Regions from separate parts of the Homo sapiens genome. Here region 2 is linked to region 1. Evidence: fine-mapped expression QTL. A gene starts in region 1. The other region holds a variant in brackets. All regions are shown on one strand. Distances are between the middles of the regions.

Region 1 (12,728 bases):
TGGTTGGATTTATTTATCCATTCAACAGGAATTTACTGTACGAAAGGCACTGTGCTTTGAATAAAGTTACAACAACCACCTCCCTTTATAAACAAATAAATCTATTTTTTTTGCTCTCATATATCCTACTATATAGTGGAGAAAATATATACAAATCACCGTCATGGAAAAATGTAAATTTGCCACTGTGTTTGGTGCAAATGACAGATGATATAAGGCTTTATGGATAATAAGATAAACTAGAGCAAATTTGAGTGTATTAGTATAAAGCTTAGTTTAAAACTAATTATACTTTCTTCATGTCATGAAATTATTGTTACAAAACCTATAATAATAAGATATATTGAATCATAAGACTTCCAAATAAAACAAATAAAACTTTAAAACTTTTAATGAGATATTGCTTTCATAAAGTCAACATTTTAACAAAAGATTTTATGCTTGAAGTAGCTATATTATTTACTGATTGTGACATTTTAAATGATTGTGTAATAGGTTTATCATCATAAATGATGAGAAAATTTGTCTGCACAAGTATAGGTGAGAAAGATTGTAAACATTTGCTTCTATGACCAAATATTTACATCAGTTAAAATCTTATTTAAAATATATCATCTCTACTTTTCTTTCATTAATTGATTCAAATTTTTTTGTGGCTATCCATGGATTTTATCAAATCTATTCAACATAATGATAAAGCTTGAATATGAAGAATGCCCGTGCATTATAAGAACAGTCAATCTGCAGCTGACATGGTTACCACTAAAATAACAAATCAACTATATATGAAATAGAATTACTTAATCTTTATGTTGCTAAATCTTTGTGTTATTAGCTGGAGCTATTCCCACTAGCAGTTTCTGCCCAACCTCCTTGCTTTCCCACCCACAATGGGCTATACTTTGAACTGCACATGCAGGCCATTCTCCAAGAAGCTCTTATCAAGTTTCTTATGATCCAGGCTATCTAATTACGGGCCCTAGCAACTTGAGGCTACACTACTTGGCTACTTCTGATGGGTGTAGTGATCGATATGTTATGGCATATCTATAAACTATTTGTGGTGCATGAGTTGAAAAGCTCAACTCTTAGCCTATTTCAATTTTCTTCTAGAATTTATTATCACCTGACGTAAATACACACCTACTTATTTATTTGGTTAGGATAGCCCTCCCCAACATTTTTGGCCCCAGGGACCAGTTTTGTGGAAGACAATTTTTCCACAGACTGGGAGAGGGGATGGTTTCAGGATGATTTAAGCACATGACGTTTATTGTGTACTTTATTTCTATTATTATTACATTGAAATATATTATGAAATAATTATCTAACTCACCATAATGTAGAATCAGTGGGAGCCCTCGGCTTGTATTCCTGCAACTAGATGGTCCCATCTGGGGGTGATGGGAGATAGTGACAGATCATCAGGCATTAGATTCTCATAAGGAGCACAACCTAGTTCCCTCACATGTGCAGTTCACAATAGGGTTCACACTCCTAAGAGAATCTAATGCTGCTGCTGATCTTACAGGAGGTGGAGCTCAGGCAGTAATGTGAGCAATGAGGAGTGGCTATAAATACAGATGAAGCTTCACTGGCTCACCCATCCCTCATATCCTTCTGTGTGGCCCAGTTCCTAACAGGCCATGGACTGCCATAGGTCTGTGGTTCGGGGGTTGCAGACCTTTGGGTTAGGACATACCTCAGCAAAATGTAGTATTCATGAAGGCAGGATCTATATCTTTTTTCTCACTGCTAGACAGTGCTAGGCATTTTCTTCTTCTCACTGGTAGGCACTGGGAATATAGCAGTGAGCATTAGCCTTAGCTCACTGCTGTATTCCCAGTTCCTAGTAAATAACTGTCATTCTGTAAGTGCTCAATGTATATTCATGGGATGTATGACTGAACCCTAAGTTTTGTGCAGGCTGTCTTTACTTTCCTCTTTGTCTTCAAAACCTATTGCAGTGCTTAGCTCATTGTAAGTACAAAGGAGGTAAGCAGAGCCCCAGAGTATAAAGGTTCTTATAGGGCATGTTAGAGATTTTAGACAATTTCTTAAAATCAATGAGAAGCCACTTAAATGTTATAATTAGAAGAAAATATTATTAGATTTCATTTTAGAAAATAAAGTTATTGCTTTCAGTGTCCCTTAATAATGGCATCTCCATCATCCTACTCATCCAATCTTAATCTCTTAAAGTTATATAATACATTTTCCTTTATCCATCATTCCTAATAATTTGCCAAAACCTGGTAATTTAATTTCAGCAAGACATAACTATCTCACCCTTTATTTCCCTTTAGAATGAGCGCCTTGGTTAATCACATAATGGACAATTGTAGCTGCTAAACTCATATCCCTGTCTTTTGTATACTCTGTAGCTAAGGCCCTATACATTTGGCCTTATATTGGCCAATAGACATTCTTGGCCTGGTAGCCCTTGTATTGGCCTTATAGCCAAGAATTGTACAGTATTGGTCTTACCATTTATCTAAGCAAATACTTGCAATAGCTCCACTTTGATTAAAGATAAATGCCAAACTTTCTGTTTGAAAAAATATGACTTTTTAATAACTTTCAACACTCATTCAGATAAATTATTGTGGTTATTATTCTTATGAGGTAAATAATGATAACTACCTGATTTTTAAAAAAGTATTTAAACTTCAAGAAATATTGCAAAATTACTACAAAGAATTAACACATACCCCTCACCAAAATTTACCAATGGTGTTATAAAAGGTTGCCACATTTGCATCATCATTCTCTCTATAGGTATTTCTGGACCTTACAACCTCTATGTTCTTTTTACTGCAAAATATTTTATTATATTTTTTAAAGATCCAGGGCTTTCTTATATATGATCACAATACAATTAAATTAGGACACTTAATATTGATATAAAACTAATTTGATTATAAATAAAAGTCATACAGTTTAGATATTATAGTTTTTATTAATATTTTGAATTAGATTGTCTCAGTAATGCTCTTTATATTAATAGATATTATTCCCAGTTTGCTCTCCAATTCTGGATTACACATTGCATTTAGTAGTCATGGTTTTTAAATCTCCATTAGTCTGGAATATTTCCTCAGCTTTTCTTTGACTTTCATCACAGTGACATTTTTGAAAAGTATAGGCAAGATATTGTGTAGAATTTTCCTTAATTTAAGGCTTTCTTTGCTTTCTCGTGATTGCATTCAATTATGCATTTTTTAATCTGGAATCCTAAATCAATAATGTTATGTACTTCTCAGTGCATCATATCATGAGGCTCATGATATCACTTGGTCCCATTATTGGTGACTTTAACCTTGGTCAGTTGGTTAAGGTGATGTTTACCAGATTTATCCACTACATGTAATTTATTATTCGTTTGTAATTAAGGATCTATAGTATATTATAAAAACAGCCTCAAGTTATTTTTGTGTATGCATTCTCCTTGAAATATGGCATTATAGTTTCTCCCATCAAGACATGGACTATATTATCTATGTTTGGGCCATGTAACTTCCATGGCTAATGAGACACCAGCAAATGTACGTCCACAGAATCTCAGAGTACTTCACATTGGAGCTTGCACTCCCTTGTTGCTTTTTGGAGCCCTGCAACTACGACTACTGCTAGCCTATTGAAGGATGATGGGCTAGATTAAACAAAAGACAAAACATTGCAGCTGAGTCCCACACCCTCAAGACTAATAAGTATGCCACACCAGACAAGTGAGTGAAGCCATCCTAGATCTCTAAACCAAACTGAGCTAGCCAGGGCAGAAACCAACCTGACAACCCACAGAGCTTTGAGAAATTACAGATGTTTATTGGTTGGGGCTAATAAGTTTTGGAATGGTGTGTTATGCACCAAAAGCCAATACTTTCTAGGGTGATACTTTGGGACTACGTAAATATCCAATTACCCAAATAAATTTTACCAAGTTTATGATTCTGCCTAAGTTAAATATTATCACAAAGACTGCAAAATGGAATTGCGCCTTTTTTTAAGAGATGAAACATGTAAGAATGGGGGCTTATTTGTCTTTGAAAAACATAGGACTAGTAAGTAGCTGTATCAGCATCAGAACCCCAATCTTTTACCTGGTCCACAGTTTTTCTCAGTATGCCATGTAGAGGTGAGTGACCTGATGTTAGGACTGGAATTCACTAGAGAGAGCAGTAGAGAGACATTCCAGAGTGTTATGAGTGGGACCCTGTGTACTCACACATGCACAGAAGCATCTCTGGTAAATGCTCCATAATTGACGGTAGGGCAGGATGGACAATGTAGGAGGAGACATTAATACAGTTATTAACATAGAAATTTAAATGATACTTGACTCACGAAAAGATATAAAGATAATATCTCTGGAAATTGCCTTTCATGAGTATAATCAAGAATGGCATTGACATACTAGATTATGATTAATAGTATCATATGTTTGTCAAACGTGGCTGTTTAATATTTTTATGTAGTCGTTATATCCTCCCCCAATTCTGCCAAAAACATCCTATAAGATGTGTGAAGTGACACTGTGAGAAGCAAGGACCCCTGTCAGCCCTTATTACAAACAAGACAACTGACACCCGAAGGGCCAAAACTAGCCAAGAGCCACAGTGAATAAATTGCCAAGCAGGCACTTGAACTCGGCAATCCCAATTTCCTAGAAAAGTTCCTCTCCCATGGCAGTGGGGGACAGGTCCCAAGTCTTTGAGACGCTAATAATGTCTGCGTCTTAGGTTTCTGCCTTGTGCCAGGCACTGTTCTAAAATCTTTACATGTATTTAAACTCAGTACCATGGGGGTATTGGTACAACACATTAACTGAGACATTCATACGTCCAGGTACTTCGGAGTGGGTGTGTGTTTAATATCATACCTACTTGCCTGAGAAAGGAATTCAAAGCCCCACTTTTTTCTTTACCTCTTCATAAAAATTTGAGAGCCACAAGGAAGCGCTCTGTGTTTCCAGTACTCTTACAGTGCGTTCGGTGGCAGTAGTCACCGCCAACCAGAACACTAGGATCCTGCCAGGGTGTAGATACTGTAACCAACAAGAGGCCAACCTCCGTCCTTTCTGCGGAGGGCGCCGAAGCGTCAAGTACCCCGCAGCATCTCTCGGCTGGAGAGCCGACGGCAAGGGTGGGGTTGCCGGCGCTTTCCCCGAGGGCAGTCTCTGATCCTCCAGCTCCCCTCTAAGAGGCTCCCTGGTGCATTGGGCGAACGCGGTGCACGCAGGCCGGCTTTGGCGTTGTGGGGCCCCAAAGCGGCCAGGGGTCGCGAGGCGCCCTCCGGCGAGAGGAGCTGACCCCAGGGTTGCTCTTGGGGGCCGTGCCTGCCAAGTATCGCGGGACTTGCGCACATCGCAGAAGCGCCAGCTCCAGAAGCAGCTGGAGCGCGCTCGGTGCGCACCGCCCCAGCCCGGGGAGGAGCGGGAGCAGGGAGGGAGGAGGGCTGGGGGTGCTGGTTACGTAAATGATACTAGCCCAGTGAGAGGCCTCCAGGCTGGGGCTACGAGAGGAGGAGGGACCACGCGAGGAGGAGGGACCGGGAGGCGGCGGGCTGGGGTGGGAGGGGGGCGGGGGCCGGGGAGAAGTGACCAGGCGGCGGCGGCTCTGCTGAGGTGACAACGTGCTAGCAGCCCTCGCTCGCTCTGGGCGCCTCCTCGGCCTCAGCGTCCGCTCTGGCCGCGCTCGAGGAGCCCTTCAGCCCGCCGCTGCGCTATGAAGGCCCCTCTCTGGGGCTGGCCGAGGCTGGAGCCGGCTCCCTCTGCTCGCGGGCAAGTGTGAAGAGAGAGGCGCGGGCGGGAGCCGGGGCTGCGCGCGGCGCTCGCGGGCCGGCGCGGGTTCCAGGTGAGCGCGGACTCGGCGAGCCCCGCACTCGGCGCGGCCGGCCGGCGCCTGCTGGGCTTGATCTGAGGCTGAATCCCGTGTGTGGACCGCCGTTCCCTCTTCGCGGGATCGTTGGCCAGGATAGCAGGTCTCCGTCTCTTTCTCGCTTCCCCTCTTTTCCTCTTGATTGTCTGGGACGAGCTCCCTCTGGGCTGCCAGAGTGCCGGGGCTAGGTGCCGCAAAGTCCCGCGGCGAGTGCCGGGGCGCGGAGCCGAGCGCCCCGGGCCGGTCCCAGGGCAAAGGCAGGGGCGCGGGCGGACCTGGCGACGCGGCCTCCCGGGAGCTCCGAGTGCGCTCGCTTGCGGGGCTGCAGGTGTTGCGGGAGGACCGCGTGGCGCGGAACTTTCTGCCGCCGCCCACCTTCTGCTCTGCTTTTCTGGCTACCCCGGTGAGTTGTTGGTGGCGGGGGGGGGGGGGGGAGCGGCTCTGGCCCCCTCTGCGTTCTGGTGACGTTCCTCCGCGGGGGTGGCTCGGCCTCCAAGCCCAGACAACTTTCTCGCACCAGCTGCAGGCAGCCCCGGCTGCGTTGCGGGCGTTTCTACTCGACCCGACACCAGGCGCTCCCTGGGTCTTGGGTGTCTTCCTCGACGGTTGCCTTCGTATAGTGCCCCCTTTGCCTCGCTTTTTCAGAGTCCTCTTGCCTCTCATTCTCGCCGTGTGTGTCTCTGCCTCTGTTTCTCTTTCTGAGCCTTGGTCCCCTCAGTCCACACTCTCCGGCCATGTATCTGTTTTTTTCTCTTATTCTGTTTCCCTCTTTCTTTCTTGGGATATCTGTGTCCCTGTTAATCTGTCTTTCCTTTTGTCTCTCCGTTTTGCAACATTTGTTCTCTTTCTGTGTCTGCTTCTCGCAGCTTATCTCTGTCTCCCTCTGTCATCTCTCTGCCCCGTCTTCCCGAACACCAGCCCCGCGATCCCGAAGCGCCTTGGTTAGGGGAGCAAGCCCTGGCGCATCTAATGGGTATCTCCAGGTGCAGAGATTTTCCTGCGGGGTCAGTGGGGACGCGGAGGAGACAGCCTGCCCTTGTCCAGGCTGTCGTGGACCTGAAGGAGGGGCGCAAGGGGTTAGAGTGGAGGGCACCGCAGCAGGCTCCCCTTGCCGGGTCCGAGGGCGCTGCGCTGCTGCGAACCTGAGCGCACTGAGGCTGCTACTCTGGACAGCGAAAGCTGCGCAAGCCCCTCCCGCATACCCGATTCTTTGACTATGGTTAGTTGAATTTCCAGGAGGAGAGTCTGCCTCCCCAACCTTTATAGCCAGCTGCAGAAGAACGGACAGTGAGCAGGCAAACATAGATGCTTTGGGGTTCAGGGAAACTAACCTCGAAAGGGTGGGAGCTTTCTTCAGGCAAAGGTGTTGCTAGCAGAGGAGAGGAGCTTTGGGGACTGAGGTATGCCTGCCTTAAACTACCATGCATTCATTGCTTAGGAAAGCGGTTTCCTTGGAGAGATCGTGGTCAGCCTTCCCTGAAACAACATAACAACATAGAGGTTTTATTCGCAAGGCTAAAGGCACTTGGCTGCCAAAGCCCCCTTGAAATTTCTGGTATCCTTGAATATTTTCAGCTTTATGTGAAAGCTGCCTTTCCTCAGAGTCTCAGTCCGTCTCTCTCTCTTTCTCTCTCTCTCTTTTTCTGTGTCTCTCTCTCTCGCTGTCTCCCTGTCTCTCTCTCTCTGTCTCGTTTGCGTTCATGCCCTCTAGTGTTAAAGAAACCTGCTGGTTCGAGAATATTGAAAAGTAAGGTCAACCTATTGGTTATTTACTTTTGGACCTCTCACCTTCCGGGATAATTCTCCTTGTATTACACGCATCCTTTCCTTTTCCTCAAAGAATGACTTTTGCATTACATTACTAATCTTTCTTTCCCCCCGCACCCCCCTCCCGCAATCTCTGTTTTTTTTTTTTTTTTCTTTCCCCACGTCTCCTGCAGAATAAGAACCTTCATATTGAAACCCTGTTCGTTTGATTTGGGAATTGGATAGGTCTGGAGAATTTGCGTAGCCTAAGGCAGACTTTGAACATTAAAAAGATGCATTTCTCTGCACTGTTTGCCATAAACCAGGATTTCACATCTCTCCTTTAGCCCCTATCCACCTTCAATTCCATGGAGAATTTTCCTGGCTGCTTCTGCTTGTTTAAATAAATGCTTTTATTTCACCATTTCTGTGATGCTTATCCCATTCCAGGGCTTAAGGTACTTGCTTAAGTAGGGGCACTGTGTCTCGGATCCGCTTTGGAGAGGAAGAATAGAAAGCTTTTCTAAAGGAATTATAGGGTACTGCTGGTATAGATTAATTCCAGTTCGGAAAGTCCTGAGTGGGAATGTGAGAATGGAGGCTGTCTCAGATATGTAGTCCCTAGGACAGTGTGGGGAAACTAGTAAGTGCTTAATAAAACTTGTTGGTTGATTGATTAGCATGCAGCGGATCATAGGCTTCCAAGTTACCAGGTATGCTAAGGAGCCTGCAGCTAAATTCCACCTCCCCGCTCCTTTTTTGGGAGGTTTCATTTAGATTTTTTATGAATGGTAATTGAGAACTAGTAGAAGGGATATTGAAACAGGGGTCTTCTGCTTCTTTGTAGTTCATGTTATTGCTTGAATTTGCCCCTTTTTGCAAGTCTACAACTTGGCTGGTGTTCTTTAACACAGTCATTGCAGAATTGAAGAAATGAGTTTAGAGGGGCCCTGAAATGTGGCATCTCTCAATCTCCTTACCTGAAAGTAAGTTGGGACATGGCATCATTTTTGGGTGAATACTTTCATGTGGTTTCTAACAAGTGAAAAGTTCTCTCTTTTAATATAAAGAACAGATATATCAGCTTAAAATACTTGGGGGCTATATATTGATCTGTAAGCTGGATCACTTACCCTAAATAATTTATGGATTCCCCTACTGCTTCATATATATATATATATATGAGATGTGCGATACTGCATGAATGTGAGAATTTCCTAAAGTACCTGGAAACATAATGCCTCCTAATTCAAAGTAATAATAGAAATCCATGGGCAGCAATACTACTTTCTTGATGATATGCTAGTCACCTCTTAAAATAGTTGCTAATTTATCATGAGTATGGTGCAGGAGCATGTTCAAAGCAATTTTTCTTTAAAAATATTATTTATAAATCACTTGATACTGTACCCAATTTTTATATTTAAAAATAGCAAAGACATAATGAAGGTGGAAAATCTGATATTGTTTGAGAGACCTTCTATTTGTTTTACAGGTTTAACTTATGCATCTAACTTTTTAACTTACTGGGCAGTCATTTCAGTTTAAACAGTTATGTCAGAGTGAACTATGTTGTTATCATGCCAAGTTGATTTCTAGAAATAGTAGTTGTAACAGGAGCATTTTCATGTAATAGAGCTTGTACAGCTTATAAAGACTTCGGGATTTTAGGAAAGGGGTGAGATAAGAAGTAACAGTAACAAATGGGTATTTTTATTCTTTATGAATGGGCAGATGAAGAGAATCCTGGTGTTTCTGAATAATAACAGTCGAGAAAATGCTTGAGAATAAAGTAGGAATAGAATTAAGCCTTACTGTCTAAAATAAATTATAATGCTACATATCTCTGTTAGGTGTTCATTGTCCTTTTAAAAATGGACACTTCATATAGTTATGACCTTTAACTAATTTGCCTTATTAGACATGATATTTTAAAGAGAAACCTCTTGCAACAAACAACACATTCTTGACAGCGACTCTTAGTACATCACCTTCTTGTATTTGTGTCCCTGTCAGAAGGAACATGTAGACATCTTAAATCTAATGGGATCTAACAGGATCACTGCTTTGAAGTCTGAATGACCATATGCCTAATTATCAAAGGATTTAAACTGGGCTTTGGTTCTAAATCCTTCCCTCTGCTCTTGTCATCAAAATAAACACATGTGAAACATCAAATCAAGTCCTACATATATATACTCATATTTATTCTGACAACCTATTTAATGACATTTCTAACAGCAACCCCCCCACACTACACACACACACACACACACACACACACACACATACACACACAGTGGCTAAGCATATGTTTGAAAACGTAAATCACATTTAAAGATCTGGCACTGTCTGCTTTGATAAACCATTTATTATTTTATCAGATTAGACTTCTGTTTACAATTTCTATCAAGGCACATTGTTGAAGGACTTCTGCCATTCAAATATATGCATACCTGTGTTTGAAAAGTCTGGTTTTTCATTGTGAAATTTAGCTTTTCAAGGAAATTTATGAAAATGAATACATTTAATTCAGTAATAGTCATCCGTTTGGGGCATTATAAACAATTATATCTAGTTTTTGGGAGGAGCAGTGTAAACCAAACAGACTTTAATCACTTGATATTTGTTTCTTCTTGATTTCATATTTAGACCTGTGTCTGTGTTTTCAGTGTAGTGTATCTATTATAATACATTTAATTGGTGTTAGCTTGATTACCAAGAAATGATTACAGGTGGCTAAAGACATCTGTGTGATTCTGATTACTGTGTGCTCTCATGTCCTTAAATTCATTTATAGCTATGAGTTTTTCAAGCTGTTTTTAGTATGTCTTTAGACTTATACATTTAAATGAAATTCTTAATTTTTAAAAGTTATCACTGCAGAGATTGATGGGATCTAAAATTTAAATTGTTAAGTTAAAGTTGGGAGACATGCTTTTCCTTTAAGGGCTCAACTTCATTCAATGTCCACGTAATTAGAGTCCTCATGAACTGTCAGGCTCTCTCTTAATGTGTACACTACCATAATTACCTACCCTTCAGAAATGAACTCAAACACAATTCAAAATATCAGTTATTAAAAATTGTTCCAGGTTAATGGTTAATCCTCTCAAGATAGTTTGAGAGGGATGTAGGGAGAAGAATGACTATTATTACCATAGATATGAACATATTTGTTATCATCTTGTAGACTATGTGAGAAAATTAAATACAATGTCCATAATAAATACTTAGATTTCTTTCATATTTTTTAAAGATATGCTCATTGTTAAGATAGATGGGGGCTGTGCAAGATATATCATGTTAAGGTTTTAACATGAAGAGGAATTAATTGGGACTCTGTTTCATATATTCCACTACATTGAATTGTCACTTAAATCTTATTTAAGCTCTTATACAACATTTTAGGAAGAGTGTGATTAATCTGCTTGTTGACACATTGGTGAACGTAATGCATGTGGTGAGTAGCCACTGTAAACAGAAAGAAGAATTTAAAAGCATAGCACAATCAAAAATCATCCAAATAACATCTTGAAGATAGTAGTAAATGTCAACTTAGTCTCTTGTCTTATATTAATTGCCTTGATATTACAAGCAAAGCACCTCTTTTTTGTTAATAAAGTGGATTTTGACATATGAGGAGGATTATGTAGCTTAGAAGCATAATAACTGACTTAATTTCCTCTTGAGATTATTATTATATAATTAGTTTCAGATAGAGAAGGTGAGATTTATATGACTATCAAAACCCCAATGAAATACAACCATTAGTTTAAAGAAAGAAAAATGGAATAAAATATATGTAAAGGTGTATCCATTCCAGCTTATTTATGAAGAAGGTAAGATGGTGTATTGGGTTATAAATTGATAAAGTGGCTAAAATTCGTTGGTTGTTTACTTTGTATTTGTACTGTGGTAAGTAAACATCTGGCAGGTCTTAACATGTTTTATCTTTATAACAACAATATGAGTAATAGTATGTTACTGTTGCCATTGTATAAATGAGGCATCACCTCAGAATCACACAGCTAATATGTGTGAGCATCAAGGATGACACCAGTTTATTCTGCCTTGAAGCCAATAATCTAATAGTTCTCAGTCTGACATTTTCACTGACTGATAATTTAAAAAAATCAAGTGGTAAACTTTATGTGATTATTTTCTTTTGTATAGTAAGAATGATTGAAAAAGTCTACTTCTATCATCTCAATTTTATAAAAGTGGATATTTTAACACCAAATAACATGGAAGAACTGAATCTCAAAATAAATAATAGTTATTTAAAGAGAATAAATTAAGCTCCCTGTACATTTTTCCACATTGTACTCATTTTCCTAATTTCACCCAAGACTGATGAAAATTTCATCACAAAAAATTTCCCGTAGATTGTGCTTGGATGCCCATCTTACTCTGAACCACTGTGATATGCTGCCTACTCTATGCACCCACACAGCTCTGGCCGGCATGGTCATCATATTCATGACTTGATGACATAATGCTTATAGCTTATTCCATTCTCTTCCTAGTTTCAAATAAAATTTGGACCTAGGAAAGATGCTAGCACTTGCTTTAGCCTTAGTTTACTGTGTTAATGTTTGTTGAAATGATTGGAAGATTAGGGATGACTTGTTCCTTCTTGGTAGTTAACTGCCATTTACTGACACTAAGATGGTGCCACTCTGTGTCCTGGGATTGGAAATGAATATTGGGCAATGACAAAAAGAGCTTGTCAGAACTAATTTCTCCATCTTCCCTCCAAAAAACACATCCCAACTTGTACGGGTCAGTTTGCTCCATTTTTACTTCTTTGCCTTGGCGAAAGTGAAGCAGGTTTGGTTAGTGCTCTTGTAAAACTGGTGGTTGGTTTTACATCCCAGGTTGCTTTAGATAGTGTCTATTTGGGCCATCAAAGAGGAAAAGAATACTGGTGGAGTGTGTGAAATGTGGCTAAATTGACCTAAGACATTAGTTTCATTTCTACCAAAGCAGGTTGTAAATCCAAATTACCTTGAGTTTATTTATTCATTGTAGTTACAGGTGTTCAGGTCCCACTGATACAGAGTCTCATTTAACTGGGATGGATCCACAGAATCTACCTTTATG
Region 2 (12,728 bases), 490 kb after region 1:
ATGAGTTCTTAAATAGTTTTAGTTCACGAAGCGCATCAGCACAGGTACATATAAATGTCACACTTCATTCTGATATTGTATTTGCCACACTAAAATGAGGAAAGGCATCTTATGTTTTCTTTTGGCATAAAGCACAGGATTCCAAGGGACTAAGATATAATATGATATAATAAAAGCTCATTGTAGTGCTGGGAAAAGTAAGTCATTCATTATCATTACTGCTAATATGTGTAACTGATAACCCCAGAGTTTATTTATAAATGTAGCAAGTATTTCTCACAGCATCCACAAGACAATTTTTAGTTCGAGAGGCTGCATAAAATGAGTACTTTCCCAATACCCATTTAGGCAAAATTATCCACTCAATAAAAATGTTCTAGAACTTTGGACACTGTGTTCTGAGGTCGGATTGTTTTTGATAATAGATTATGAGGTCATGTTTTTCTCTTGTACCAGTGTACCAAGAAGAGGATTTAAATTTTCTTAGTGACAGGAATCTCAGTCTGGGCCTTCTGACTTTCTTCCTGCCAGTATCTTTAATTGCCATGTGTTCTTATTGAGAAGAAAAGTTGTCATCAGGTTCTCTTTGATATTAAAATGGTTTCAAACACCTCGATTTGATTTAATTTAGGTCTGATATTGCTAAGCCTCTACTAAACACAATTTCAAATGATTTCTCTTTGATCACTATTCTATTGGTGAGATAAACTTCTCAGAAGTGGCTTAAAATCTGTTTGCTTTGTTTTTTGACAAAGTTATCTACAGATTTGCCCATTAGCTTTTTCCTATTAATCAAGTTAATTTAAATCTAACTGCTAAGTAGGTTTTCCTTAGAACTCTTTTTAAAAAAACTGTTGAAGAAATGTGTCTCTGGTGGATTATTCTGATTTCCTAAACTCAGACTCTAAAATTGTGTGTTTTCATTTAAGAGTCTGAGAATTGCTAGTGTTCAATTTGCTCAGATTGGATTTTAGTTATGAGAAATCTAGACACATGGAAAAAAGTGCTTTTTAATCAGTTCTTGAAATCAATATAGCAATAAAGCAATACATGAGAAATTATTTTGAAAAAAATTGTATAGGGTGGATGTCACAGAGTATTCTACATGAATACTCATTTCATATCTTGCATGAGGTACTTTATCATTTACACTAAATTATTCTACTTAGGAAACTTCATCACTGGCACATCTTTTTGTAAATAACTACCTTTCCTCAATTTTATATGTCCAATATATTCTACTTTAGGTCAGTTTTTCCCAAACCTCCGCCATTAATTTACTTACCTTTTTATTACCTTTGCCATATTCTAATCCATATTTATTTGTTTCTTTAAATTGATTTTCAATCTTCTTATACTTCTAACTGAGCCTTAAACTATAAAACTATATGTTGATGCATATTTTTCAAATGTACATTAAATAAATACTTTGCTGTTAGCACATAAATTGATAACCATGTACTACCTATAGTTATTATGTCTTCCACTAGACTAGATACCATAGGTATCTGTTTAGGAAAAGCTTTTGGTTGTCTTATATGATCTATATAAATATAGATATTTGATAATACCTGTTTTTATTAACCTGAAGATTGATTGAAATGAAATAAAACTGTGGGAACTTAGTGTATAAAAAAGAACATTATATTTGGTATTACATGAACTAGAAGATCTATCTTCTAATTGCTTTTGTACCTCCTGCTTGCAATATAGTTTTGGGGACGTACATTTCCAAGGTCAAACCAGTTGCTGCATCTACACATTAAAGACATAGAATCATTAAAATAATCTCTAAGATCTCTTTTAGCTCTTAACTTTCTAGGAGAGTCAAAAATTCTTTGTAGCACTCTTGGATGACTTATTTGGGGCAATATGTATTCTAAGCTGCATTACTGCTATATTTTGTAATTAAAATATTTTGTATTACTGGTGAGTATTAACCTTTAATTTTCATATTTCATGTGAGTTGTCTTCTCTTTATTAGAGTTAGATGTTTGTCCTGGTGTCCCAGTTCTATTCCCACTTTCTCATTCAACTACATGCACAGTGTAAGAAGTGGGGTGCTGCTGACATTTAAGGCGTGTAAAAAGGCATGCAAATTATTTAGCTAGCTGAGTTTAGTCACTAGCAGGTAGTAATCATGAGCCATTGTGCATAGTGGATGACAACGGCGAAAATACCTGACTTGTATCTTTCCTATGACATTAGGCAAGCTTATCAAATATTCTGATCCTCCATGTTGTCACCTGAAACAAAGCTTCATTACTGAAGGATATGGGTCAAGGGATGACTGGTCATTCACTGGGATAGTCATGATACTCATTTATATCCCAGTATCAGTCACATTTGACATTCAGCTGGAGTGATGGCAGATGTAGATAACATCGGTCTTTCAGTGTATGCTTCATGGAGGATAATGATGGTTTGCAGCTATTATGTTCAAATGGGACTTAGAAAATAGCCTACTAATTAAATGACTAAATCAAATAAAACTACACATTTTAAAATTTCTCCTTTATTTAAACTTAGCAAATTATATTTTTTGATCTTCTATACTGAGTTTCTGACTTACTCATCTCAGCCCAATTTGTGTATATCTGAGCTTTGAGTGGAATGTGCCCTTCCAAACTATAATACTTCTATAGAATGTGAATATTTTTACACGTTGCTTATGGAACACTCAACTTCTTGAAATTCTCATCTGATTTGCTTTGCTCTTACACAAATTACATGTGCTACACATATATACATTGAAACAAAGCCACTTTTCCAAACAGCAAGTTCTCTTACCATGGAAGTGTGATCCAGTTATCTTTGATATTTCATTTCTCTTAAATATCTTTTAGCAACACACATCTTAGAAAGTGTTGTCATTTTTTATAAGGTGATATATTTTAGGTGAATTTTCATATTTGTAGAAACCTATTTTTTCCACTCTTCACTAAATGAACTCAGATTTGGTTACTCATACTAAATGCTCTGGCTAAACATCAACGAACAGAAATCATTTATCAGTCTAAACCAACTTTATATGCATTTATAGAATATATTCACTTTCATATAAAATTTTACAATTCCGTATATATTAAAGCACTATCTGGACTCAAAATCACTAAATTTGAAGTTTCTATGTAATATAATAACTTCTAAAATGGGAGGTTTATACAATACTACAAAGGAAAATCATATTTGGATCCATGGGTTTTATTTGCTTTTTTGATTTTTTTTCTTTTCAGGATTACAAACAATAAGTCTTACTGTTTTTCAAATTATATCCTTATTTGCTAATTTGATTTACAAATGCACATGATCTTTGAGCACATTTTCTTTGCATCATTCCAATGTTTACGCTGCTAACTTAACTACTTAGATACTTGCCACGTACAGTCTCTAGCTCTTTATGAGAAGCTACAATGGAAGAAATGTGTGACTTGCATTCATAGTACTGTGAATCTGTTCACTCACTGAAATTCACTAAAAACAGAACCTGTTTTCAGCCATTCCTTGTTTCAATCTGCATTCCTTGTCTGAATAACTGTAATAAAATAGGACAAAACAAATTTTGATGGGCAATTTCATCGTAGCCCATCTGTTCGGTTATGCTGGGAGGCAGGAACCTAGTCTTATCTGTCCTGCTGTTTGCAGGGCTGTCTTAATAAAGTTTGGTGAATCAGAACTACAAGGTATTTCATTTACTTCTATGTGTATTCCTGTGTTTTGACTTTCCTTCCCCTGCCCTTCACAGTGGAGTTAAAGCAGGAATCTAGTGGCATCAGAGATTGGAGTCTAAATGAGGTTGAAACTAGACCGGGTATCCTATTCAAGGTAGTCTTGAAAATAGAGCATCAGCGGGACAAGTCCCAGGTAGCCACTAGGGAAAACTGAGATTCAAACACTAGGAAACCAAATATATACTCCAAGTTCAAATGACAAGAGAAATCTAAAGTGAAGTTTCAGAGCCAAGAGTGAGCAGGTGGGCAGAGACCAGATCAGCTCTGGAGCTGATCATAATCCAGTAGGGAGAATTGCTGCCTGTAGCGATGGTTCCTGGAACTACCATTCACCTACTGGAGGCTTCCTAGAATTGAAAGATCATGAAAATGTGGACAACTACCTTAAGAGCTAAAACGAGGCAAAGGTGAGACTTACGGTCATCTCTTACCTTCCTGGTAAAATTTCTCAGATCATCTGATACAATGTAAGACAATCTGCTTGTGATCCATAGGCCACTCGTTCTTCCTCCAAAATGGCCTTGTACATGTTACTATATTTTATTTGAATGTAAACACAATTACCAAGCAGTAAATAATGATTTTCCTTACCCATTGATTAGTGCATGTTGATACTGAAGATGCATTGATTTGTACAAGCCTAGCTTGAAATGGAGCAGATGGGTATGTAAAGGTTTACTCAAAATCAATGTGAATTAGATTGCTGCTCCTCAGTAAAATGAATTATAAGTTAGAATGGCTATTTTCTTTAACTTAATGTAATAGAATGCTGTCTAAGGCAATCTGTTAAGGTAGACTTACTGAAAATGTAGCCTTTGATCTCAAAAATAAGCATTCCCAAAACAACATGATTTAATGAGCAAAGACAATATTATGTCTAAGAAAATGTAGTTAAGGCATTGTAGCAAATGTCCTGGAAAAATGTTTGACAATAAACTTGTTTTCTTTTAAAAAATAATAATCATGTTCTTTCGAGTTATACAGTATTACACTGACTGCTTTTTTTCCTTGATTGTTTGTAAATATTCACATATACATATGTTACAGTGGTTTAATCACTGTACTGCTCACAGTGCAGCAGTGCTGATGGATAGCTTTTGTTAAAGAAATATCATTAACATTTATATCCTTGTTTACTGCTGTTGCTTACAATGTAAAGAAAACAATAATCCATTTATAGTCCACTGGCTGTATATTCAGGCTTTGTTCATTCCTTTAAAAAGAATAGTCCAACCATTCATGTTCCTGAAATATTAAGGGAATAGGCCATTCTTTGTCCAACTTCTTAAATAGATCTTTGAGTTTCGGAAAAACTATGGGGGAGAGAAATGTGTCAAAGGAAGTACCACAGACTGTGTTTTATCCCAGTATAGGGTGCTGCTTTCGCAGAAAAGCGAAAAACATTCCCAAATAAGAGTATATTTTTGTTTTGCTACTGGAATTATTCCTCAGATGGCTTGTGCCTGTTTTTAGAGTGATACAAATTTGCAACGTGTACCTATGTGTGGATGGATGTCTCATAAGTCTATTGTCATAAATGTGACTATTCAGTATATCTTTATTGAGCACGTATGTTGTACCAAGTAACATACTGTGTACTAGAAATTTAAAGAAATAGAAAGCAGAGCTCCTGCTTTCAAGGAACTCAGTTTGATGTGGCACCATGATAGCTCTCAGGCAATTTAAGTCTATACAAGAATTCAGAGAAGGAAGGATGAGATTAATCCAGCCAAAAAGGGTTGAGGCATTTGACTTGGGATTATAAAGATGAATCATACTTTAGAAGCATGGGGAAGGGGAGTGAAGATGGGGTTGGTTAAAAACCTAGGAAATTTGAAAACAAAAAATGAAAATACAAAACACAATTTGGAAAGATGGGTTATGTAAAACAATTGGAGCATGGAGTGAGTGGTGGGGAAGAAAGTAAAGTGATCTTGCATAAATAGCCTAATTTCTCTACATATTTTTCATATTAAACACCCAAAAGAACAGCTTATTTTTGTCTGATATTTAAGTTATGTTTATAAAGATTTTATTGAGCAGAATGTGATCAACACTGCTGGTATTACAAAGCATAGGGGCATGTTGTAGATTAATTTGTATGATGTATCCATATACGGTTTATATGCATATATAGCATAAACGCTTCCTTCAAGATTGGTATATGTGTAACCTAAATTAGTCTCTAGCTCCAATTCTGATACTGTTTAAGTATGTAACATTGGCTAAGTTATAACATTTCTAAAATGTAACTAGACGGTCTATAATTCTTTCAGCCAAAACCTTTTGGAGTGATCTTATGACTTTGTGATTCAAGGCTGAATATTTGGAATCAGACTGTCCTGGATTGAAATCCTAGCTCTCCTGCTTGCCAGTTGTGTAAACTTTATCATTTTGCTGTAATACAGTGCATTCTCTAATCCTCAAATCCCTCTTATATAAAACTAAAAATAGTGTCTATCTCATAGGATTGCCTTTAGATTTAGTGTAAAGTGCTTAGCCCATTTCTGTCACATAGTGAGTACTTAACAGATGCTGCCTATTACTATTGTGCGATTCCATACTGATTAGTAAAAGAATCATATCCACTTAATTTCTGGGCCTTTGAATGTCAAAAACTAGGCCTGTGTCATTCTAATAAGCATGATTAGGCTTTTTAAATAAACATTATTCACCTCAGTCTTGGGCAGTGATTTCTCATGCTTGAATTTTAGTTTTGGCTTTCCTAAGACTTCTTAGTTTAGCTTCTGGCACTCTTTCCAAGACTTATTTATTTTGGAAAACTAATATGACTCAT[C/G]TCTCAAGATAACTGGCCCTTGACTGCCATACTTGATTTAGTTTGCCCACAGTTCTTGGTAAAAGATCCTGCTACTACTGAGCCCAGTCCCATGGAATCAGCTCTAACTAAGCTATCACTTCAGACATAGAAGAGTAAAGAACAAAGAGTAAAGAAGGCAATGAAGATAAACAACTGAGTGTCCACAGGAACTGGTGGCACCCTATTTTCACAAAAGAATTGGCATTAAGAATTGGAATGGTCCTTGGAAGTTTCTATTCTAACACATATTTTCAGAGTGTAAAAAATGATCACAAATTCTACCCCCACCCCCACCCCACCCCACATCAAGAAGTGAGTCTATCTAGTTTCTCGCTTCTTGAGTCTGGACTAGTCTTATTACTTGCTTTTCTGACATACATGACATAGAATAAAATAGAGTAGGTTTTGATTCTCAGACTAAAGATTTGTATATTTCATCTCTCTCTCTCCCCCACCTCTCCTTTCATCTTTTCCTCTCTCTCTTTCTCTTTTTCTCTCGGAGAATGTTTAGCATATGAGCAAGCCAGTTTAAACTATTGGTGGGTGAGAGACCATGTGTAGAGAGGTCCCATTCATCCCAGTCTTTCTAGTCAAAGTCATCTTAAACTAGCCAACCCCCACCCAACCCAAAAGCTCTTGCCAAATGCAAGAGAAAACTTGATATACAAGAAGAAAAAATAAAGCCCAGCTAAGCCCAGACAAATTGTTGACTTACAGAATTATGAGCTAAAAAAACTGGTCATTGTTTTATGCACTAAGTTTTGCATAACTGCTATACTAAGCAATGCATGAATCACCTCTAAAATACTGCCTACAAGTGGCCAAATAGCTATTGCATTAAGGAAGAAATTTTCTCCCCACATTCATTTTCATGAGTGTGAGGATACTATATGGCTCAATAATTAGCGTAGGTCAACCTTTCAAACCCTTTAAAGTATTAAAGTAATCACGTGAGTTTTCATTATAACAGATTTAAATCACAAATGAAATTGTCAGTTTATTTTTGAGTTACCAAATTCCTTACACAGCTTTTAAAGTTGCATTGTACACTGTTTTGCTTTCTCATTTACTTTAACCCAGAAATACTTTCTAAGCTTAAGTACATTCAAAACTTGTTTTTTTCTCACCTGATTCTACTGATCTCTGGGATTTGTTATTTTCAGAATCCATTGTTTGTTTTGCTAACTTTTTCTCGCACTGTATTACCTTTCTTGGCTTAAAAACCCAATAGGCTTGGTAAGCCAGATGTACGCCTGTCCAACCAGCTCACCCCAGTTTGAATCACTACTCTTTCATCTTCTCTGCCTTCCCAGTATGGCTTAGATATTCTCAAGCCTTGGCTTGCTTCCAGTCTTTTCAGAACAGTATTCTGAATTATGTCTATAGCATTTGTTTTAACTTTTTTTTGTGGAGCGGGGGGAAGCTCAAATGTTCTGATTATTTATTCTGTGGATTTCTGCAGTGGACCAGTGAGGATTCTGCCTGTCATAGTTATCTCCATCAATCCATCAGCTAATTGCACGACCTTTTCTTAAAAATGCAATTTTGTTGCAATCACTGTTCTGCACACTCTGACCCATTATGGTGATGAAAGAAAATTAAACCACATTCTAAAATATGAAAAAAAGCAAAGAACAGTGTGATGAAATGAAATGGTTATGTCTATATGCTGAAATGTAAATGTGGGCAAATTCTTTTTCTGTAGGGAGTTTTTATGTGAAGCTCTTTTGGAATAAATATAAAAGATAAAGACTGGAGTTAAATAGAAGTGTTGAATTGACTCCCCAGACCTATGCCTTCCACATCATGTTTATGCAATTGTGTTTTAAAGTCAATGTCTATATTCATCTGAAAATATCACCCAAGTGCTTTATCCCATCTACAAAAAGAATCATATTTGAGAACTGCCTAGTGGGTAGGCATAGACGTCTCAATCCCTGTATAGCCTTGAGATGAAACTATCTAGGGGGTCTAAAAAATGAAAGTCTTCAACATATATCTTTCAATAATTATTTTTTGTGTTAAGAACATTAAAAATCCATCATCCTTGAATTAAAAATTGCATGAGCTAAAAATCACACAGGTTATATATATTGAATGGAATAAAATGAGAAGTATACTATATTGACCAGAGGTAAGATACTGTTGTATTATCCTTACAGAATTTAAATGAAATCATAATTTCTATTTATAGGCAAGCTATATGGTATTGAGACAAGGAAATAATTTACAACTGTTATAGTTATAGAAAGGTTATTTCTAATTTTATCTCATGGAGTTAAAATAGAAACTTAATTTTAAGTTAATCTCACTTTTGGGAGTGTAATAGTGCAACCTCTTTGTTAGCAAGAATATTTTTAACCTAACTGTATAAAGCATTAACACATTGTGTAATATCACTTATCCTGTAGGAAATCATCAAAATCTGATGATTACGGAAGACTGGCTTTACAAGTTCAAGGGAGAATATCTCGACTCCAGTAAATTCCATCAAGACTGAGAAAAGTGTGATCACGGGCAGTTAGAAAGTATAGCAAATTCATATCCTTAGGCTGCTTTCTAAGGATATCAGTGAAAATGAAATCAGACCTTTCTTAAAATGCGGTTATCTAACACAGTATTTTAGAATTAAACTTTTAATCTGTTTTCTTATATGACTATTGAGTATTGTTATCCTTCACTTTTGTTGTTTTGTTTTGTTTTGTTTTGTTTTGTTTTGTTTTGTTTTGTTTTGAGACGGAGTCTCACTCTCTCTCCCGGGCTGGAATGCGATGGCGCGATCTTGGCTCACCGCAACTCCACCTCCCGAGTTCAAGCGATTCCCTTGCCTCAGCCTCCCAAGTAGCTGGAATTACAAGCTCCTGCCACCATACCTGGCTAATTTTTGTATATTTAGTAGAGACGGGGTTTTGCCATGTTGGCTAAGCTGGTCTTGAACTCCTGACCTCAAGTGATTCGCCCGCCTCGGCCTTCCAAAAGTGCTGGGATTACAGGCGTAAGCCACTTCACCAAAGAGTTATCCTTCACTTTTTATGTACATTTGCATTCTTGTACTTTTTGCAAAAATATAACTGCCAGTTTAGCACCTACTAGACAAACTAGTTCAACATCGTTCAATTTTCACATGAAAATTAGCATCCCACCTAGTTGGGGTGATCTTCCCATTCTGTTCTTTTTTCTTTTCAAATGAGTAAAATCATTAACTTCATAGAGGCTTTATTTATCCATTTATCCTATTCACTGAACACCTTTACCAAGTGTGTTACTAGTTTAGTCTCTGGGTTTCTAAGAATAGATACGTTTTTTCCTAAGCAGGTCACAATCAATTGTTGGATATAAATGATTTTCATACAACTAATTCCCAAGCATACCCTTCAATTTAAACCAGAGCAATACAGCTACCCACCCTCAAAGACAAAAGGAAAAATATATTTGTGCTCTATTTATAAATTGCCAATATTTTAAAAAGAGAATGAAAAACTTTGACCTTATGCTAGAACTTGCCGTTTTTATTATAAAAAGTTCCACAATTTCATCTGTGCATTACTATGATTCATCCCAAAATTGTTTTAAAGGGTAAGTATTCCCAATAAAATTAAGATTCAATTTGGAAACAATATATCTATTTCATAAAGTAAGGTGGACTTCTGTGACAAGATCATCCTATAGATGAATTGAGACTTGACTGAAGTAAGGAAATGTTTCTTCACCAGCTTTATTCAGAGAAAGTGGCTTAAGTCATCGACTTAGGATTCCATTGTCTGCATTCTTTCCTGTTAGATACTCAGTAAATATAATTAGATTGATTAACTGACTAAACAAGTCTTACTTACTGCATGAGAAGAACTATCTCTGTAAAAGGAAATCTCCCTTAGCAGCCAAATTTTCTGAATGATGTCTTCAATGTGAAGAGTAATAAGTATTTTCCTCCACAGAAACCTGACCCAATATCAGCCTGGTGAAGAGACCTAGACCTCTGGCCATTAGTGTGAAGTCAATGCTATTGACAATCATCAAAGATTTTCATCCTTTCCACTAGAGTACTTAAGAACTAAATATCATTGATGAGAACTAAAGCCTGTTGATGTGTTCCTGTAATTTTAATTAATAATACATTAAATTTTTTTCCTGATTGTATGAACATATATCATTTAACAATGATTTATACCAAAGCCATTAGGAAAGATTTAGTGTCATATCACAGCCAGTTATTCTCTTTTCTTCTTCCTTACCCCTAAAAAATGTCCCAGATGCAGAAAGTCATAATCTGATATTCAGATATTTACATTTAAAAGGTTCCTGTCTTTTAAAGAGTTTTCAAAGTTCTATCTTTGTCTAAAATATATAGTTTAGAAAATATAATGTACATGTGTATTGCATATATGTATATTACAAATTTAAGGATGTATATGTCACTCGCTATATATGTAATTAACATATTTAATCATGAGCACTATGCCTTGCATATGTAGCACAGCCTCAGACATAAGTCATACCTAGAGAGGAGTGTGATGGAAACAACCAGAACCTCGTAACAAGATTGAGTAAACCAACTGACATCTTTTAGACTGAGATATCAAGTACAATGAGTTAAACTGTTAAAGCAAATTCAAATCTGCTCCAAGTGAGCATTAATTTTTAACATGTATTATACATGTCACGACTTCTGAGCAGTGTTAATCAGGTGAGAATTCTCAGATGAGAACTAAGGTTATATGTCAAGGAAGCGGGAATTTGCGCACCGTGGGAAGAATTCCTCTGTATGATGGACAGAAACAGAGTTGGAGTCCAACAATGATTACTGTGTGGAAAGTGATCACCAGAGAAGAGGGAAGGCGGAAAGTATAGTTACACAAAAAAGCAAGTCTAAGTTTCAATCAGGTGATCTCAAATAAGTCAATTCCAAATGTCACTTAAGGTACAGGGACTCCAACAAACTGTGTCAAACATTTAAGGTGAGCATATAGGGACTGATTAGACTGGATTATGAATGATATGTAAAGGAAGAAATACCATGGAATACTCTCCCTTAGACCAGGTTGGACACTGTGAAATGAATGGGTTTCATTGTTGCTACTTTTTATGTTCATTATTTTAGTTAAATAAACTCCTTTTTTAAAAAAAAATTGAAATTATATAACAGAGTAAAAATAGAATTCACTTTTTACAGTGTAGAGAGTTTCTGGTTATAAAACAGCTGAGATGTAAACCATAAATGAGATGAAACATAAGTGATTCGAACATAAGCAAGATCATTCTAAAAATAACTATCAGGGAACAAGGGAGTTCAAGATGTTAAGATCCCTTATCTATGTGGAAAAATGGATGATAACTTTGTCAATCCCCTCTCTAGAAATGAAAACAAAGAAAAATTTAAAAATGAAAAGGTTATTAGCAAATGGTCCAGAAGTAGGCCAGGCAGTAGAAAGCATGATTTTGTTAGCCATTAGTTACATAGAGCAGGTTATGTACGTCCCTACCTGGAAAGTCATAAAACATTCCTGAAAATCCTAGCTGGCATTTCCAGCAAATTGTGAGAGAACACAGTTTACATTCTGAAGCCCAAGAAGCATTGTTTTTTTAATATTATGTACCATTTCACTACTTACCATTTCAAGAGTATAAAATAACAATAGAATTGGCCTTCTCATTCTGATATTTTAGAAAATTCCACATTTTCACGGTTCCTATTGCAAACAAGAATAAAATCTTTTGGCAGAGCCTGACTATAAAAAGATCTAGAAGCTATTCTTATAATGTAAAAAAAGAGTATGTTTTTATGACCTTGCCAATTTCTCTATTGATAAAGAGTAGGAAGTGTGGATATGATCTATAAACATATTTTTAAATGACAGGCATAGATAAAGAATTCTCTGAAGCAGAATAATTTATGGAACAAAAGCAGTTAAGGATGAAAACATTTATCATGGGAAATGGGAATACTGTGAGTAAAAAGTTCAAGAATAAAGTATGATTTATGATAATAGAGATTCTCACAATATTTTCAGAACTATAGTTGAATAAAAATATGTAGTATTTGATTGAAAACCAAAACAGTGGATTAATGTAACTAGAAAAGTTTGGGTTTGGGCCAACAGCGGACATTGAAATATGAGTATATTTTTAGAATAAACATCTATATATAGCTCCAGTGAATTCACTTTGATTAAAAGATAATT

Which allele goes with the higher level. Positions count from the first base shown, and alleles are read on the strand shown. Sizes are in standard deviations (SD) of each study's normalised expression.
With allele C in place of G in region 2, the expression in aorta of the gene that starts at base 5,598 in region 1 is lower (large effect, 1.0 SD a copy in GTEx).

The links. PIP is the estimated chance that this variant, and not a neighbour inherited with it, causes the effect.
Region 2: its variant is fine-mapped to the expression of GALNT13 in aorta (GTEx, PIP above 0.99). The same link has a PIP of 0.9 or more in coronary artery and tibial artery.

The regions. Positions count from the first base shown.
Region 1 is chr2:153,866,325-153,879,052 of GRCh38, forward strand. It overlaps GALNT13 (polypeptide N-acetylgalactosaminyltransferase 13), which reads left to right and starts at 5,598. Exons shown (of 13, transcript NM_052917.4): 1 at 5,598-5,979.
Region 2 is chr2:154,355,408-154,368,135 of GRCh38, forward strand. All of the region lies in intron 9 of GALNT13 (polypeptide N-acetylgalactosaminyltransferase 13), which reads left to right. Among named protein-coding and RNA genes, the nearest start is that of GALNT13-AS1, 96 kb to the right of the region's middle. The variant C/G (reference allele first, on the strand shown) is at 6,529.